3 linked regions of the Homo sapiens genome follow. The protein of the gene in region 3 purifies or fractionates together with the protein of the main gene of each other region. This does not show direct contact. Each region holds a gene or a part of one and is shown on either strand. Other genes may lie near its edges.

What was found. The genes of interacting proteins can lie anywhere in the genome.
Region 1: the proteins of ANAPC13 (region 3) and ANAPC4 purify together in Homo sapiens (affinity purification with mass spectrometry; 10 studies listed by BioGRID and IntAct, with this or other methods). This does not show direct contact.
Region 2: the proteins of ANAPC13 (region 3) and ANAPC7 purify together in Homo sapiens (affinity purification with mass spectrometry; 4 studies listed by BioGRID and IntAct, with this or other methods). This does not show direct contact.

The regions. Positions count from the first base shown.
Region 1 is NC_000004.12:25,408,234-25,415,262, forward strand, and holds part of ANAPC4 (anaphase-promoting complex subunit 4), read left to right. Parts: intron 1-1,464; coding exon 1,465-1,558; intron 1,559-5,411; coding exon 5,412-5,509; intron 5,510-6,090; coding exon 6,091-6,152; intron 6,153-6,232; coding exon 6,233-6,271; intron 6,272-6,365; coding exon 6,366-6,467; intron 6,468-7,029. UniProt on the Homo sapiens protein: Component of the anaphase promoting complex/cyclosome (APC/C), a cell cycle-regulated E3 ubiquitin ligase that controls progression through mitosis and the G1 phase of the cell cycle.
Region 2 is NC_000012.12:110,372,709-110,379,737, reverse strand, and holds the end of ANAPC7 (anaphase-promoting complex subunit 7), read left to right. Parts: intron 1-1,894; exon of another isoform or gene 1,895-2,033; intron 2,034-2,120; coding exon 2,121-2,345; intron 2,346-3,521; coding exon 3,522-3,672; coding exon of another isoform or gene 3,673-3,676; exon of another isoform or gene 3,677-4,264; intron 4,265-5,404; coding exon 5,405-5,594; 3' UTR 5,595-6,838; downstream 6,839-7,029. UniProt on the Homo sapiens protein: Component of the anaphase promoting complex/cyclosome (APC/C), a cell cycle-regulated E3 ubiquitin ligase that controls progression through mitosis and the G1 phase of the cell cycle.
Region 3 is NC_000003.12:134,477,181-134,482,989, forward strand, and holds the end of ANAPC13 (anaphase-promoting complex subunit 13), read right to left. Parts: intron 5,752-5,809; 5' UTR 5,725-5,751; coding exon 5,626-5,724; intron 1,536-5,625; coding exon 1,410-1,535; 3' UTR 526-1,409; downstream 1-525. UniProt on the Homo sapiens protein: Component of the anaphase promoting complex/cyclosome (APC/C), a cell cycle-regulated E3 ubiquitin ligase that controls progression through mitosis and the G1 phase of the cell cycle.

The DNA of each region.
Region 1 (7,029 bases), on a different chromosome or scaffold from region 3:
TAGTATCTTAAAGGTTTGTTTCAGTGTGGAATCTAAAATTGCATCAGTGAACGTTTTTTACATTAAAATTCATTCATCTTCTTGCACTTTGAACGGATCTTTTGTCCACGCATAATTTTGTAACATCCTGCTTTGGTCATTTGGGAAGTATTGGTTCCCTGAGTCATCCAGCTGTTCTAAATGCCGCCACCTTTTATCAAACTATAAGCTAGATTTCATTAATAGCACCACCAATTTAATCAGAAAAGTCTTTGTGTTGTGAAGCACACAGGGGCAGATGCAGGTTTTCCAAAAAAAAAAAAAATTTTTTTTTTTTTGAGACAAGATATTTCCTCTGAGTAGTACAGTGGTGCAATCACAGCTTACTGCAGCCTCCACCTCTCGGACTCGCCTCTTGTAGCTGGGGCTACAAGCACACACCACCATGCCTGGCTAATTTTTGTCTTTATTTTGTGGAGACCTGCCATGTTGCCCAGGCTGGTCTTGAGCTCCTGGGCTCAAGTGATACGCCTGCCATGGCCTCCTAAAGTGCGGGGATTACAGGCATGAACCACCGTGCCCAGCCTATTTTTGCTTTTAACATAAGTGCTTTTCCTCAAGATAACCATCATACTTTGTGTAGCAAAAGTTCCTATGTATAACTCTCAATTCTGTCACACAGAATATTAAAGATTCGTACTCAAGGGTTGAAAATAAAGTTAATAATTTAATGACTTCATTAAAGATAAATGAAACTATGAGTATGTGGCAGAAAAAGAATACAGTGACTGCTGGTATGATTTGGGACTACTACCTTGACTCTTGGCTGAGACACTTACAGCTTTCCCCACCATCAGTACAAATGTTAGCATAGTGTAAAGGGCAGGTGACAGCTACATTATTATAAAACTAGTATTGACTTTGTGGATCCCCAAAAGCATCTTGGGGATTCCCAGGGGCTTGTGGATCTCACTTGAAGAACAACTGCCATAGAGTATATTGACAGTACATTGACAATGGATACTTATGAAACTAATTTATAACTTGCATATGTTAAATTAAAATATGCTCATGAAAAAGAAACACAATTTAAGTTCGATTTGTGATCTCTACATCTACAACATAATAATCTTTTAATACTTTGTGGTTTGTTTAGTTGCTTGACTAAACAAACTACCAACTGTTCAGCAGTTTCTTTAATTTTTAAGATAGTAGCTAGCTAACATTTATGGAGGGCTTAATTCTGCCACATACACATAGCAGATTTTGGCTACCTCACTTAGAATGATAGTAATGCACTTTCAGAGGACTTGGCAATAAAACAAAGTAACTTATTAAGTTAAAAAAGTGTTAAAAATAAACCGATTTTAGGCCCTAAGTCTTTGATTTACTAAACTTAACTTTTTTTTGTCTTTTACTTTTTTTCTTTTTCCATTTTCCCTTCCAGGTATGAATAAACTTAAATTTCTAATTCTGTATTTCTAGTACTTGAAAGATGAAGATGATGATCTTGTGTCACCCCCTAACACAGAAGGAAACCAGTGGTATGACTTTCTTCAAAATAGCAGCCACCTTAAAGGTACTTCATGAACCAACCAGATTTTGGCCATTTTTGTTTTTATTTAAGACTAGGTCTTGAATAGTTCTGCTAACAGTTTTGCTGAAAACTTGCTGAACACTTACCTAAGTTTATTAGACTTATATTTATTTGATTATAGGAACAGCAAAATAACCAATAGTGTATGACATCACCATGATAGATAGAAGACACTCTGAAGTTAACTACGCTGTAGGAAGATTGCTTATTCCTAAGTGTTCTCATATAAGTGTTTTGCACCCTGTAAAAAATAGGATTTTGAGGGAAACTATAGAGCCAAATAGTGAGAAAAGTCTTTTTTGCCAATTCCAATTTATTATCTTCTGAAAGCACAGGGATGCTCAACTGTATTCTCCTCGGGTTGTAGTTGGTGTGTGTGTGTGTGCATGTGTACTTGTTATACCTTTCATTTTCTAGAATGTCAGAATGTTAATACCGTAAAGCTATCCAGCATTATTAGGGATGCAGCACATAATAGCAACCATTAAATATGCCAGCACATCTTACCATTTTAGATGAAAATATTTTAAAGCTCGTATTTCTTTGATGTCTGAAAGAATAATCTGACCAGATTTAGCAATTGCTTAGATCTTTAAGGTAGTGGGTGCTTAGTCTAACTAAACATTTATGGGGTGCTTAGTCTGCCATATACACACAATACCTGCTTTAATCCTCACAAGATTCTATGGGTAGGTACTTGGTATCACCATTTACTAATGAGGAAACAGAAGGTTAGAGAAGCCCAGGATCACACAAGCTGGTTAGTGATGGAGCTAGGATTCTGTTAATGTGAAAGCCTGAGGTTTTAACTAGACTGGCAGTACAGGTTGAGCATCTTAATCCAAAAATCTGAAATCTTAAAATGCTCCAAAATCTAAAACTTTTTGAGCACCGACATGACACCACTAGTGGAAAATTCCATACCTGACCTCATATGATGGGTCCCAGTCAAAATGCAGTCAAGACTTTGTTTCAAGCACAAAATTATTAAATATATTGTATAAGATGTACATGAAGCATAAATGAATTTCGTGTTTAGACTTGAGTTCCATCCCCAAGATATCTCATTATGTATATGCACATATTCCAAATTCCAAAAAAATCCCAAACACTTACAGACCCAAGCATTTTGGGTAAGTGAAACTCAACCTATAGCAATTTCTGCCACTTGTATTTGGTTGCTGCTTCTGTGAATGAATGAATGAATGAATGAATGAATGAGGGAGAGAATTCTTTGATGCCAAGAACTTTGCATATAGTCCAAATTCTTTTTCAAGGCAGAACCTATTATGTATTGCCAGAGAGTCTTGAGGTCAGTAAGGAGATGCATTGGTGCAAGTTGGCTATTGAATGGAGGGAGGATAAAGGTACAGGAGACGCTACTTATTTACTGTATTTAATCAGGATGCCCAGGGAATAAGGCAGGATGTCTGGAGAGGGTCAGTGGCAGTGCGTCAAGAGTAGTGGCACCTGGACCCTGTTGCTATTTTGGCTATTATTGATCCAGGGAACTTTGCCAGGCTAAAAATAGGTCCTGTCCTCTTTTATTTGCCCCACATCTTACGTGTTTGAATAAGAAAGGCCTGATCTTAGCTACAGACCTAATGGAACTCACTATTGAGTTCCATAATGAATTCTAGTGAGGAAATATCAGTGAAACTGTTTTCTTACACTGCAAAAATCAAGTGCTAAATACTTGATCTGTGTACTTTCTTTAGGGTACATGGGTCAGTATTGTGTGGTGGGTAAAAGTTGGTGCTCTGAAAGCTGGATTTTCTGGGTTGGAAGCTGCTCTACTACTTCGTAGTAACACGGCTGAGAGCAAGTTGCCTAACCTCTCTGTGCCATAGTTTCTCATCTGTAAAATGAAGATGGTAATAATGCTGCCCTCAAAAAACTGGTGTGGAGATTAAATAAATTAATCTACATAAGCACTTAGACTAATGCCTGGCACTTAGCACAGAAGCAGTCTGTAGGTTAGTGTCTGAGCACTTTTTACTCAGTGTTTCTGACAACAAAATGAGAGAAATTTTTTTCCTCCTGACACCAACCAATTTTGACACCAACGGGGTGTCCTACAATTCAATTCTGACACGAATTACAGATAGTTAGCGCAGACCTCACAGGATAAGGATGCAGTCCCACAAGACTGCCCTCGCGTCAAATGTCAGGTCTCTGGGTCCCCACATCTCTTGGGTAGCCATGCTTGTTGTCTGACTTGGCTATAAGGTTAAGGTCAAGAGTTCCCAGAACCTTCCTCCCTTTCAGGTTGGATAATTTTGCTAGAATGGCTCACAAAACTCCGGGAAACATATAATTTTTGTTTACCAGTGTGTTGTAAAGAATATGACTCAGGAACAGCCACATAGAAGTGCTATATCAGGCAGGGTATGGAGAGAAAGGTGCAAAGCTTCCATGCTCTCCCAGCACCTGGACATATTCACCACCCAGAAAGTTCTCTGAACCTCATTGTCCCAGTGTATTTCTGGCGGTTTCATTATGTAGACATGATTGATGAAGTCATTGGCCATTGGTGATTGAACTCAACCTCCAAGCCCCTCTCTCTTCCTTGGAGGCTGGCGGGTGGAGCTGAAGTTTCCAAACTTCTAATCAAGGCTTGGTCTTTTTGGTGGCCAGCCCCTATCCTAAAGCTATCTAGGTGCCAGCCAAGAGTTGCCTCATTAAAACAAAAGATGGTAGTCCTAGCACTTTGGGAGGGTGAGGTGGGCGGATCACTTGAGATCAGGAGTTCGAGACCTGACCAACATAGTGAAACCCTATCTCTACTAAAAATTAGCTGGGTGTGGTGGTGTGCACCTGTAGTCCTGTTACTCGGGACACTGAGGCAGGAGAATCGCTTGAATCCGGGAGGCAGAGTTTGCAATGAGCTGAGACTGCACCACTGCACTCCAACCTGGGCAACAGAATGAGACTCTGTCTTTAAAAAAAGAAAAAAAAAAATGTTCCTGTCACCTTTATCACTCAGGAAATTCCAAGGGTTTTGGAAGCTCTGTTCTAGGAACTAGAAACAAAGATCAATGTTTTTCTGTGATAACATAGCATCTGTCACCTTGAGAACTTAAAATGTTAATGTGATTGTAGTTCATTTTATCCAGCATGGCTTTATCTAAGGGAGGGCCTACAAAGCACAGTGGAAGAGGGTGGGCATTAGAGTCAGACTTGGGTTTGATTGACAGAACTAGATACTTAGTTATTTTCACACTGGGCAATTGCCTAAACCTGTTAAGCTTCATTTTTTTTTTCATCTGTAAATTGGAGAATATGGTGTTTACTTCATATGGCTATTGTAAGCAATAAAAAAAAAGGTATTTTAAACACCTAGCATAGCAGGTGTTAGTGCTAAATTATATATTACTTTCTCCTGATAAAGTAACCTTTTAAAAAGTAAAGAGCTTATTTATATAGAGCTAGTTTCCAGTCTCTTGTTTTAGAGACTTAAAAAACAGTACTGGACTGCTGTTGTTGTTTCACTGTGGCAAAGAATAGAAGAATGAATTTTATTTCATCATATATTTGATGGTTCCCAAATCATTCCTTGCTTCTTATAGCCAGCAGAAACCTACAGTTGGATTTTGGTGAGTCTAAGTTTGTAGTAAGTGAGATTGTTTTTAGTGAGCTGTCAGCGGGGGTTGATGAAAGGCAGAAGACCATGGTCGTTTTTAATGAGGTTGTGTGAAAATCCAATGAAGTGGTCAGTGAAAATTCTACCTCGAGATAAACTGTGCAGACTGGCTCTAACAGTAGATTATTTTCTTCTAATTATAAGTTTGCTATAGCTTCTTTTATTTTTGTTTCTGTTTTTGTTTGAAACCAGAAAGTCCTTTGCTGTTTCCTTATTATCCTCGAAAATCATTGCATTTTGTGAAAAGGCGGATGGAGAATATTATTGATCAGTGTTTGCAAAAGCCAGCAGTAAGTTTGAAAGAAATGCATGTCTTTGTGTAGGAGCAATAGTGTCTACAGTATGTGGCTCACTTATGTAAATGATCTTAATTTTTAGAATGAACTATGAAAATGTTGATAGTCAACTGTTTTTGATTAACAAAAGTAACAATTTCATATGGTTCAACCTAATACTCCAACTTAAGTTTCTTACACACGTGTGTGTGTGTGTGTGTGTGTATAAAGATTACTGAAGGTGTTGGCATCTTGAGTATTTTATTTGTTCCCAGAAGAAATTCATTGTAAACAGTCTTAGTTACAGAGCTGATGTGTCTCTGCTTACTACTGAAGGATGTGAATGAATGGTTGTTATGAGACCAGAGGGAGGTGGTCTTAAACCTGCCATGTGCTTAGCACCAAGGTCCTTTTCAGCTCAGAATTTTCTCTTTTTCCTTACTGTTACAATTGTCATTAACGTTTCTTATGTACAAGGTTTGGTGATGTAGGCGATTTTTTTACCACATTCGAACAGTGATGGTCAGTCACTTTCTGTAGAGTATCTGTGTGCATATTAACGCTCTAATTATATTTTAAAATCTTATTTTATATAGGATGTAATTGGAAAATCGATGAATCAAGCAATCTGTATTCCATTGTATAGAGATACCAGAAGGTAATTCTGTTTACCTATTGGATGGTGTAATTCCGCAGCCAATTTAAATTTTTCTCATTTCTTTTTCCCTTTTATTTTAGTGAGGATTCTACACGTAGATTGTTCAAATTTCCTTTTCTGTAAGTATATATTTCTTCCCTATCTTGAGTGAACAATACAATTTTGTTTTATCCATCAATAGTTAAAAAATATTATGACAATTTTTTTTCTTAGGTGGAATAATAAAACTTCAAATCTACATTATCTTCTTTTTACTATTCTAGAAGATTCACTTTATAAAATGTGCATCTTAAGGAGACATACTGATATTTCTCAGTAAGTATTAATCTGAAGTTTGAATCAAAGAGATAAGATTTTATTATTTGTAAGAATGAAGCATACAGCCTTCCAGCATTTCAGATTTTAAACTACTTTGTGACTTTTAGATGTGTCATTTAATTGTTAGTTTTCATGTCATTAAAAGGGTAACACTGAATTAGGAAGTTATATGATCTTGTTTTAGATTATTTAATTTTTATTGGCATATAATCATTGTAGGACTTTTTTTAGAGTTAGGAAAAATATGACAGCTCAGGATATTATACTTCATTTTTTAGAAGTTAAAAACTTCCGAAAAACTAAAAGTTAAAGAAGTTTTAACTTTTTAGAAGTTAAAAACTTCTAAAAGTGGCTGCCTTATAGAAATGATTTTTGCCTAGGGTTAAGTATGCTTTTCATTAAACAAGAGGCCTTGCCTAACAGAGACTTACTTTGAAATTGAAAGTAGAAGTTCTGAAAAATAAATCATATTTAGAACGCCATTGGTAGCTTAAAAATGGTTTTAAACCTGAATTTGAAGAAAATGTTGAGACCACGATGTAACCAAAAAGAAATAATT
Region 2 (7,029 bases), on a different chromosome or scaffold from region 3:
TGCTCTTAACAGGAAGATGAGTTCAAATTTGAGAAATAAAATTTGGATGTTGGGAAAGAGAACAAATCTGCTTATATAGCCAGAGAGCTATGCCTCTGGATTTGTTGAGGGGGAAAGAGTATTGTCTTTGTTCTGAAAGAAGCTCTAGCAAACCAACCATTGATTTCAGATTAACTTCTTGATCCTGAAACTGTAACTTCCCTGTCTTCCCAGCTGCTGTTAATCATGTTAATTCCATTATACTGCATGCCTATTTCACCAGAGCTCAGGGATGCGGTTGAATAGTCCGTCCTATAATATTTGGACAGCGGATGTTTCCCAGTTGGCCAGTGAGGCTTCTTAAGCTGCCATTTGGAGATTTAGGTCAGGGCAACTCTGACTACACCCTTTGATATTTCTTACAGTTTCCAGTTGGAGCTTCCTTCTTTTGCTGGTAGAGATTTAGGTTAGGCAAGTGCATTCTGTTTTTTTCTGAAGTTCCAGTAGGGCTTTAGCAGGGAAGTAAAACTATTCAGTAAGTAATTGCAAACAACTGTATGTGGAATCCAACATGTTGCCCTTAAGAGTTAGGTAATTGGCTGGGTATGGTGGCTCATGCCTGTAGTCCTAGCACTTTGGGAGGCTGAGGCGGGTGGAACACCTGACGTCAGGAGTTCGAGACCAGCCTAGCCAACATGGTGAACTACCATCTCTACTAAAAATAGAAACAAATTTAGCCAGGCATGGTGGTGCACGCCTGTAGTCCCAGCTACTTGGGAGGCTGAGGCAGGAGAATTGCTTGAACCCAGGAGACATGGGTTGCAGTGAGCCGAGATGTCACCACTGCCCTCCAGCCTGGGTGACAGAGCAAGACTCCATTTCAAAAAAAAAAAAAAAAATAGTTAGAGTTAGGTAATTTCTGGTTAAGTAACCATAGTGTGTGGAAGGGTGTGCATGAATGTTATAAATGCTGCTAGGGTGGAGGAGTATGCAGAGAAAATCTGCCAAGGATTGTGTGGGTTTGGGGTTTTAAGCTGTTTTTTTGTTTTGATGAGCACTTTGTGCCAAAAAGTTATTCCTCTGTTCTCCTCAACTTACTGGCATGAAGAGTTGAGAGTTGACTCTTCTCAAGGTGGCCTCCTCATAGGGCGTCTCGCTGTGGGTGTGGAAAGAGGCAAGGGCTGCCAGTTGCAGTCTGTTTGGTGCATGTGGTAAGTACTGTTCATCTCGTTTAGGGAAGCCCTCAGCAAGTGCCTTTTGAGACAGCTGTTACGTTTCAAATAAAAGAGTCTTTCTCCCTAAGTTGCTTGACAATAAGTCCTTTATTTGTCAAACTGTAAATTCACTTTAAGACTCTAGGAGCCAGGCCAGGCACGGTGGCTTACGCCTGTAATCCTAATACTTTGGGAGGCTGAGCTGGGCGGATCACCTGAGGTCAGGAGTTCGAGAGCAGCCTGACCAACATGGAGAAACCCCGTCTCTACTAAAAATACAAAACTAGCCGGGTGTGGTGGTGCATGCTTGTAATCCCAGCTACTCGGGAGGCTGAGGGAGGAGAATCGCTTGAACCCGGGAGGCGGAGATTGCAGTGAGCCGAGATGGCGCCATTGCGCTCCAGCCTGGGCAACGAGAGTGAAACTCTGTCGCAAAAAAAATAAATAATAAAATAAAGACCCTAGGAGTCTTCCATCTTAAACCTAGCCCTACAGGTGACCGAATGCAGCTGGAGAATAACTGCTTGTTAAGAGGCAGCAAAACCTTGGGTTTTGTTGGGAACATCATCTCTCACTACTTTGATCTCTTGGCCATATGACAGACTAATCATTAGTGTCGCATTTATTCTTCCAGTGGTCAGATGGGGTGCTCACATGCTGCAGGTTCCTTACATGTGCTTGTTTCCTTCCCTAAACTGAAGGTGCCTTTGAAGGCAGTCTTTTTCTACATCCATCAAGTTCTCTGGGGAAGAGCACTTCTTAGCTATTCCATCAACACTCTTGCCAGTCTAATCTCACCATCAGTTTCCCGTGGCCTGCCCTTTGTCTGAAACTTTGAAGGTTAGCAATTTGGAGAGCTGTCAGAGTGGAAGCATGGGTTGGAATGGTAATGGCATTGAATGTCTTCACGTGTTTTACTTTTTTCAGGTCTTATCGAATGTTACTTAGCCTCCAACAGTATTCGAGAAGCAATGGTAATGGCTAACAACGTTTACAAAACTCTGGGAGCAAATGCACAGACCCTTACCCTTTTAGCCACCGTTTGTCTTGAAGACCCAGTGACACAGGAGAAAGCCAAAACATTATTAGATAAAGCCCTGACCCAAAGGCCAGATTACATTAAGGCTGTGGTGAAAAAAGCAGAACTACTTAGTAAGTGTGTCTTATTTTCTGTCCTGTTCATCATTAATTTTTATAAAACCTGACCTCAGTTGGAGCCCCTTGTCCCAGCTAGTTACAGATGACTAGACAGGTGTGTGCCTTTTGCAGCAGGTCTGAGCCTGCTTGGATTGGTTTATATTTAGCCCAACCAAACGTAGCTGGCTTAGATCTGCTTGGCTTGGTTCCAACCACCTATAATTGGTTGGTATCTATTCGGCTCACTAATTTTTTTTTTTTTTTTTTTTTTGAGACGGCATCTTGCTCTGTCACCCAGGCTGGAGTGCAGTGGTGCGATCTCAGCTCACTGCAACCTCCGCCTCCCGGGTTCAAGCAATTCTTCTGCCTCAGCCTCCTGAGTAGCTGGGACTACAGGCGTGCACCACCATGCCCAGCTAATTTTTTTATTTTTTATTATTTTTTTTTATAGTAGAGATGGGGTTTCACCATATTGGCCAGGCCGGTTTCGAAATCCTGACCTTGTGATCCACCCGCCTCGGCCTCCCAAAGTGGTGGGATTATAGGTGTGAGCCACCGTGCCCAGCCTCGGCTCACTGTTATCTGGTTTGAGTTGTCCTGAATTAGTTGGAGCTGAATATAACTAACTGATTTTAGCCATTTTGAGTGGAGCTATCTGGATGATTTTATGACTTCCCGTTTGGCCCTTTTTTTTTTTTTTCAGTCCTGATTTATGATAAACTCATAATTTGGTTCATTGAATTTGGGCTAGTTGGCAAAGCAGTTTGGCTTTTTAAAGTTAAGAGCCCATTTAAAACATTATAATTCAAACTGCAAATTTCTTTTTTTTTTTTTTTTTTGAGATGGAGTCTCGCTCTGTTGCCCAGACTGGAGTGTAGTGGCACAATCACGGCTCACTGCAAGCTCCGCCTCCTGGGTTCAGGCCATTCACCTGCCTCAGCCTCCCGAGTAGCTGGGACTACAGGCACCTGCCACCAAGCCCGGCTAATTTTTTGTATTTTTAGTAGAGACGGGGTTTCACTGTGTTAGCCAGGATGGAAAATTTCTTAACTGAATAGGGCTTCAGGTGTGCTTGCCCTCGCTTTGTGTTGCACCAGTGTTCTCTTGAGGATGTCTGCAAAGAGATGGTCAGAATGGTAGTTGTGGTTTTTTTGTACATGACTTAAGTGAGGGTCTTTTTTATTCCCCCAGGCAGAGAACAGAAATATGAAGATGGAATTGCTTTGCTGAGGAACGCACTGGCTAATCAGAGTGACTGTGTCCTGCATCGGATCCTAGGAGATTTCCTTGTAGCTGTCAATGAGTATCAGGAGGCAATGGACCAGTATAGTATAGCACTAAGGTAGGCACTAGCCTCCCTTGGGGGAAGGCCACTGAGGAGGGTAGAGGAGGCAGTGAGCTGTGTCACAGGAGTTATGGAAACACACACACACTTTGTGTCCATGGTTGAAAGCAGAATAATAATAGTAATGGTAGAAGAGTTATTTGTGAATTCATGACTTCTAAAAATTTTTTCTTAAAATATATTAACAACATTAGAGAACTGTTTCACTCATAACCATCCCACACCACTATAACATCTGTGTTCATTTGTATAGCTCATCTTCTGTCCTTGCCCACACACACATATTTTTATAGGGCTGTACCTAGTATATATTTTATATTCTTCTTTTTCAAATCAAAGTATTGTAAGTACTTTCCCATGTTTCTATCTACTGTAGTCATTAAGAACTTGAGGTCTGAAGTTTTGAATACTACCTTCACCACCTGTGATCTTGGGCAAGTTACTAACACATTTCCTTGTCTATATCTAGCTACCTTATTAGATATTAAATGATCGAATGAGGGTTAAATGATTATTTCATGTAAAGCTCTTAGCCCTGTGCCTGGTACATAGTAAATGCTAAATAAATAGTGGTATTCTTACTGTTTAATACAGAAGTGGTTTCTTTGAGGGTTGTCTGTGTGTCTGTAAGGTTATGGTGAAGGGCTGTCTTTAATAGAGTCTGATCACATTCAATTGTTCAGCACACAGTTGAGCACCACTTGTGTGCCTAGCATCTCAGTGACAACTGGAGATGCTATGTTTCGGGAGCTGTCAGTCTCAGACATGCAGACTGGCCATGCCATGTGCTAAGGGCTTTCATAGTAGTCTGTAGAAGGGAAGGTGGGAGTCCAGAGGGCAGGAGCCCTGGGTATGGGTGAGAGCTTCAGAGTACAGGATGTGGAAGGCTTCAACCAGGAGACGAGGAGATGTTACAGATCGGTCCGCATTTATATCGGTAGAAACGGTGCCAACATGGGTTTTAGCTGCTTTTTAGAATCTCAGAAGCAAGTGAGAAAATAAAATATCAGACTTCCATTAGAGGTGGGGTTTGCTAGGCGTGGGACGCCTGCTGGCTTGGGTGATGGTCACTAAGGCAAGAGGAAAGATTGCTTAGGAGGCAAATAAATGAATGTTCTAGAGGCTCTGAACTTTGGGGGTGGGGGTGGCGTATGTACTGACACTCAGCTGCTAAATGTGAATGCTTGGGTAGGGGTAGCCTTGGGTCCTGGGGTCTGACCTAGGTGTTTACAAGTCTGTTCCATGGTACAGCGTGATGTTTTTGGTTGGCTCCTGAAATGCTGCTATGTTTAATTACATCATAAGAACATGGGACACCTATACTCAGAGAAATTCCTATTTTTTGTAACCCTGTAGCTCTAAAACCCAACTTTCTGGGAATTCCATTTGAATTTACCTGGTAATGTTTGTTTGCCACTTTTTCATTTGTGTTATCTGGTAGCCGCCTCTAGCAGAATGCTAGGGGTAATAGGTATGAAAAAGTTTAAGAAATTTGTGGAGAAAAACTCAAATTGAGAACTCTAAAAATTAGGAAGAGACTCCTTTTTGCACTTCTGGTGGTGGACTCCCTCAACCCAGCCTTGGAAGCCTGAGTTGTTTGGAGAGGCCAGGCTTTAGCACATTTTTTGGGACTGTGTGGTCATTTCACTGCCGGGCCAGGGAGATGACGAATCAGCCAGCAAGAGCAAGGCAGAGATTCAGGCCTCTCCTTTGTTTTGTTGTCCCCTAGTTTGGACCCCAATGACCAGAAGTCTCTAGAGGGGATGCAGAAGATGGAGAAGGAGGAGAGTCCCACGGATGCCACTCAGGAGGAGGATGTGGACGACATGGAAGGGAGTGGGGAAGAAGGGGACCTGGAGGGCAGCGACAGTGAGGCGGCCCAGTGGGCTGACCAGGAGCAGTGGTTCGGCATGCAGTGAGGGGGCGGCAGCTCCATGGCCGCAGTGGCCTGCCCTGCTCTGAGCACTTCCGTGGACTGAAGGAACCGTAGGAGCCTGCTCTCAGAAGGACAATGATTCAGCATGTGATTGCAGCAGGGGTCTCTGCCCCCTCGCTCCCAATTCCTAGTCGTGACTTCATTTCTAAAACAGAGCCTGACCAACCTTCCATGTATCTCCATCCTCCCCTGCTCCAGCCAGGGAGGACTGAGGGAGTGCCCCGAGACCCACGCACATGTTGGGGCTTCTGGGCCAAGAGTACTTTTTATATAACTAATTTCTAAATCCAAAAGCTCAAGGAATAGACAGTGTTCTGTGACATGGATTGGTTTGAAGGAGTTACCCACCATCCCAGCACGATAATGTCATCTCCCAAGTTGGATGGCAGCACGATCTGGCCCTAGGGAGCTTCCTGTTCCCAGAAGTCATTGTCCTGGGCTATCCAGATGTCCCTAGTAAATCTTGCTTCCTTCTGCAATGTTAGTAATGCCTTAAGCTGACAGTTGCTATTTTGCAGAACAGTTTTCCTCTTTGCTTAGCTAGTAACTTGCCTCTGAGCCTGGGCTGATCTGAGAAACAGGTGTGACAAGAGCATGAACCAGAGGTGCACCTGGGGCAGTTCCCTAATAAAACTGGTTTGTACAGTCATGGTGTTGGGGTGATCAGAATGGAAGCCCTTTTCAAAATAGACTCTTAGTATTTTTGTCTTATTCGCAATGCATTGATTCAGCCCCAGAATTATTTGCCAGAAATAGACTTTCTTCCCCTGGTGTTGGGAGCCAGGAGGGTTGGAAAGCTCAGGAACCCTGAGCTGGTTCATCTGTTTGCATATTGGGTAGGTTAATTTCCCTGGAGCCTGAGAGTCTTTGGCCAGATTTCAGCTGCGTCTGCCTGGCTCTTTTGCTGCAGCTGTGAGATTGGGGTCTGGTTCCAGCAGTCTGTCACTGGTCAGCCTGAGTATCACACCCTGAGCTCTGGGGCTGGGAGTTTCTTCCCACACCCTCTCCCTTGTGCCTTAAGTTGCGATGGCTCTGAGTATACAATTAATCGGAGGTGAGGGGTGGGTGTCACAGCTAATCCCAAATTCAAAAATTAGTCCAAGGTGCTGCAAAATATAAATTTGATGTCAGTAGAAAGTCGTATCCTAAAATGTAAAAACTGTAAGTGTACAGTAGTTAATGAGCTCAGAACATCTGATAACTGCAATTTAAAATGGGCAAAAAGTTTCTATGAGTCTTTCAGTCTAAGACCCAAAGCCTGCGCAACATCACTTGATCTGAGCCACTTCTAAAGAGACATATAAGGCTAGGCGTGCTCACACCTGTAATCACAGCACTTTGGGAGGCCGAGGCGGGTGGATCACTTGAGGCCAGGAGTTTGAGACCAGCCTGGCCAACATGGTGAAACCCCCGCTCTG
Region 3 (5,809 bases):
CACAAACCAACAGCTGTCTTACAGATATCATATTCTGGTTCAGCAGAAATCAAGAATAGCTTTCATATTTTACTGGTCTACTAATATTCCAGGGAAAGGCTAGGCAGGATTCACATGAACATTTGTCAAGTTCTTAGATGTTAGTGTCTCAGAGATTACATACCACAAGTAAGCTGTAAAATCCTCATTTAACAAGAATGTGAAAGAACTGTGGCGTTCTAGGTATTTTAATTTTTTGAAAAGCTTTTTCTCTTGTATAAGTTTTTTTAATATTGTAAGTCTCTTTTCTATTAGGTTGTCTTTCTTTGCTTACTGAAGGGACTGGTGCCTTGGGGTCTTTATTCTGAAGATAAAAGATTTCTAGGCAGAACTACTGATGCAAAGAGAAGAAATCAGCCTGGATGTATCTGGATTATAGGATAGCTGCTAAAATCATGTTTGTGATTGAAAACCTAAAATAAGCTAATTTGTTTTTTCATGTACCTCTTCCTCCTAAAAGCTAAGTAAACAAAAAGACCCAGCATAAAAAGGATGAGAAGAGATTTTAGTTATTCAGTGTTTTCAGAGTTTCAACAAGGGATACAGATACAAGCAGCTTCTTACAGAGTTTACAATCTGGGGAGAGAACATGAAAGACACTGTTTAACAGGCAAATAATTCCAGGAATAAATATACATGAATGTGTTTTTCAAAATACAGGTTCTTATACAAATGTATAACTAAATACTGATTCCATAGTGGGGTGGTTGTAACTGAAAGGGCTTTGAGAAAAGGCTTTGAATAAAACTAGTCATCCACCTAGCCAAAGATCCTTTCCAGCAGCACAAAAGGAATTTGTAAGGAGAACAGAGATTAACTGTCAGATATCTTTCTAATCTGTAAATTTATCCAAAGTTTGAAAATACCATGAAGAATCTTAGGAATGCCAGTAACCAGGGAATGGGATATTTGCATATCACAACATCTACAGGCTAAATACACTCCGAATGCTTCTCAATGTGGGGAAGTATGAGAAGTTAATAATTCTCCTAGTGTCTGGCTTCCTTTTTCTTTGCCTTTCCCTCTCATACGTTCAATCACCTGTGTTACAGGACACACATAAGTAGTTGGAAGGTGTTAAACTTTGACAGCAAAGCAAAATCAGAGGTAGAGGCAAATGTTTAACCAATCATGTTCAAATATAAGCTACTCAATGAAGAGTTTTAGGTTTAAAGAGCGAAATATTCACCATTACTGAGAAATCTCAGTTTCTCATTCAATTTCGCATTGCACTTTGCTACCACAAACTAAATGGGTGTACATTTTTGAGTGCTGATTTATTACTCAAAGGTTTGAATTTGGAGACTGAAACAAACCATGCTTTATCTGTGTACTTTGAGAAAATCCATCCACAAGAAAGGAGCCAAGCGTCAGTTTCCAATGGGGGGAACATTCTCATGGAGGTACTGTAAGGCTAAGTCTGTCCACTTCATTTCTTGTTCTTTGACAGATTCTGTGGTGCCACCATTGTCTTGTTCAGGTTCAGGAAGCTCATTCTGAAAAGGTACAATAGAAATTCAGAACAGTAATATATTCTGCATCTTCTTGGAACTCAAGAACACTTAGAATTAAAGCTTGTGAGTTCCTAGGAACAGGCAACATAATTGATATGTGTATTCTAAAAAAGCTAAAATCATACACGTGAGGAAACTATCAGAAGTATCATTCAAACATGGCCCGGGCCTTCTTCAGTAGGGAATGATGGGCATTTTGACTCTGACATTTGTGAAGGAGGCACTGTGGCAGAAAGGTTAAGGGCAGAGGCTTTTGGAAGCCAACTAGGATCCAAGACCACAACTCTCCCATTTGCTGGGTTACTTGGGCAAGGTATGCAAACCCTTGGGGCCTTTGTTTCTTCCTTGGCAAATGGGAGAACAAAAGAGCCATCACCTCACAGGACTACTGTAAGGATTAGGTGAGGTAATTCAGATCAAGTGCTGAGCACTCTGTGGGGTATCCAGTGCTCAAGGAATATTTGCTATTATTATTAGCGGCTAGGAACACTGAGATGAGTGAATCCTAAATCTTCTTTAGCGGGAGCGTGCTTTAAAAGAATACTAGTTTGCTGGCATATTCCTTAGACACAAGAAATGTATCCAAAAAATTATCTTGGACCCAACATGTCTTTTTTTTTTGAGATGGAGTTTTGCTTTTGTTGCCCAGGTTAGAGAGCAATGGCGTGATCTCGGCTCACCACAACCTCTGCCTCCCGGGTTCAAGCGATTCTCCCGCCTCAGCCTCCCGAGTAGCTGGGATTACAGGCATGCACCACCATGCCCGGCTAATTTTGTATTTTTTTATTTTTTTTTAGTAGAGATGGGGTTTCTCTATGTTGGTCAGGCTGGTCTCGAACTCCCAACCTCAGGTGATCCACCCGCCTCAGCCTCCCAAAGTGCTGGGATTACAGGCGCGAGCCACCGCGCCTGGCCCAACATGTCTATATTATAATAAAAATGGAGGTAGGGCAGGAAACACTGAAAATGTAATTAATAGATAAGACCTCCCTCTAGTGGTGGAGCAGAGCAACAAAAAACACAACAAATGACCAATTCACACCCTACCAGCAATTTTCTTAAAATGGTAAGTCATGGGCCACACTTACTGTAGGATCTGGGATCATTTACTTGTATTTTAAGTTTAAATGTATTACTACTGAAACTCTGCTTTGTACCAGAGTTCACAGATACCAATATATTTCTTTTCAATTATCTGTGTTTTGTTTTATGGTTAGCAAACTGTTATGCGATATCCAGACTTAAAATTTTCCACTGGATTCTAATTTGTAGTATGTGAATATGTTTTCCCCTCTAAAATTATGCTCAATATATATTAAATGATATTTACTTATCTATATTTGAATCACATACATCTTGTTCTACAAGACAGATTCAAACATACTTGAACAGATTGAGAAGAGCTATCATTTATTGTAACGCAATAATATATTATCTTAAACTTAAAAAGAAAGTTCAGTCCTAATAATTACTTATAGATGACAAAGAATAAATAGGTCCTTGGTTAATGAATTCTTTAATTCAGAAGCAGACAACGTTGCTTAATTTCATCCTATCTGTGGTATGCTTTCTAAAATAATGTGTCTTTCATTTGGTATCTACTGTCCCTTGCAATACATGCCAACACATAAAATGGCATATATGCCTGGAAAACAAAAACAAAAGTATCATAAACCCAGCCACCCATTATGGTGTACTGTAAAATGCCCTTAGTTCTTTGCAGCTACTCTTATCAAAAGGTGAAACTGATTTCCCCAATCTTGGATTTGGACTGGCCCTGTGAGTTGTTTTGGCCAACAGAATGAAGCTGTCATGCCAGTGGGCCAGTTCTTGGCCTAAGCTCCAAGAAGCTCTGCCGTTTCCTCTCAGGTTGCTCTTGGAACCCTGAGATTGAGAAGTCTGGGCTAGCCTGCTGGATACCAGAGACCATGGCATAGTCACCCCATCACCCAGCAGACAGCTTGTTAACTGCCAGACATGTGAGACAGTCCTAGATTACCCAGCCTCCAGAGTCTGTTGGCTGACTGCACAACACAGGCAAGCCTGGCAGGGATCAGCTGAGCTGGTGCAGACTAGAAGTCCCTCCCAGCTGAGCTACAAAATCATGAAATAAACAGTTGCTCTTTTAAGTCACTAAGCTTTGGGGTGACTTGTTATGCAGCAAAACCTAACTGGCATACACATTGCCTTAGAATCGCAAGACAAGCGAAAGGTGTGGATTAGCAGCAGGGCCAAGCCAACTTCGCCTGGAAGTCAGCAGGGAAACCTCCTTCCACCCCTGCCACCCAAATGTTCTCCAATCTGAGCCATAAACTTCTCCAGAAATGGACGTCTCCTTTATTTTCTTGACTTTGTTTAGGCCCTCCTCCCTTGCCTAGACCACAACAGCTTGCCAATTGGTCTCACTTGCCCCTATCTCCATGTCACACCATCTCTAACAATGCTGGCTAAACTGATTTTCCAAAAGCCAAATCTGAGCATAGCAGTCTTGCTTTTAAGACCATTCATTCCTGGATCTCCTGAGGATGAGGTCTAAGTGTGATATCAAATACCACTCTCAATCTGATCCAAGCCCAACTTTTCAGCCTACTTATGTGACAAATGTATTCTTCATCCACAGTGAATGACTCACCATGTCCCAAAGCCTTTCAAAACTCTGGGCCTTTACACATCTGTCCCCTCTGCTGCAATACCCTTGTCTACCTCCACTAAACTTCTGGTCCTTCCTTATGACCCAGCTTAAACATGACATTCTCTCAGAAGCCTTTCTGATGCCCACCAGGCAATCAGCCACTTCGTATATGATGTGGCTGTTTATGCCCCCACCTAGAATATTTATTATCACAATTACTTATCTATAAGTGTTGCCTTTCTAGACCCCTCAGGAGGAGGAACTGTATCTTATGTTCACATAGTCTTATGGCACACAGTAGGCTTCAAAAAATGCTTGTCAAATGAATGAATGAACAGAAGTTCACAAGACAGGATTTGGAACTTCACAGACCTAGGTATATGTTATATGAAGCCCTACTTACCTGCTACCAGACTTTGGGCAAGTTGCCCTTTCTGATCCTATTCTTTTCCTATAAAATGGGAATAACAGCACCTCCCTCACAGGGTTGTTTAAGAATTAGAGATAATGTATATTTCCAACCTCAGTCCATGGCATAAAACTGGTATTCAATAAATGACATCTATAATTCTTATTATGCTCTCTCTTTTGACTATTTTCCTAAGCTTGAACTAAGCTATGACTTATTTGATATGTATATTATTCATTGAACATATTACTATCTCTTATTCGTAAATGAAAATACAGATGAACTATTTTATTTCTTTGCAAACAGCAACAGCAGATATTCTAACTATAAATTATATTTTATTCAATACTAACTACTCTTCTCAGGGCAGCTGGCATGCTTTAAAGAAAAACAGTCCTGTTTTCCCTTTTTTAGGCCTCTATGACATAAATAGGATTTTAAACAAACATTTATATAAGCAAAACTTTTGGATCACTTATTACATGAGGTTTAACAAACTCCCTGCAGCAGAGTTTTCCAAAGATGGGGAAGAAAAGAGTATTCCAGAAGGCCACTGGCCTAAACGCAAAAGAATACCCAGGTATCTTCTGAATATTTTCCAGGGAACCTAAGATAGGTGTATGCTCCAAGAATGTAAGTTTCTAAAAATGCTGAAAGACTGATGAGCCACAGGCAGGGAAGTAAGAAACAGAGCTCATATGCTGCTGCTTCTTGTTCTTCCCCATCTTGCGCATTAAACTCTCATTATTTGGTTTCTCTGGTTTTCGTGTGGTGGACAGAACATGGCTCAGAAAATCGGGGCTCTAGTCCTGGCATGACTCCTAACTGACCTGGCCATGTTAGCTCCCTGAACCACATTTTTCTTCAAATAAAACATACAACTGGATGCTCTCCAGAAGCTTCTAGAGTTAGAGAATTCCACAGCTTTGATTTCTTTGCCACACTAGTTTATCTTCCATTGATATCCCTCCTCCACTAGTTACTGCCAGATCAATACCTTTAACCCATCCTCAGCTCAAATCATAACCTACCAGTGGTATTGCGACATCCTCATAAGGCAGCTTGTCTTCTCGCCAAGCATCATCAATCAAATCCAAGATCCTTCCATCTCTCTGAACCTCACTGTCCATTTTCCTGCAGCTTTGATCTTGTCAAATCTGTAAGCCAAAGAGGTTATTTCTTAAACACGAAGACTGAAGAGATGGTATAATCCAC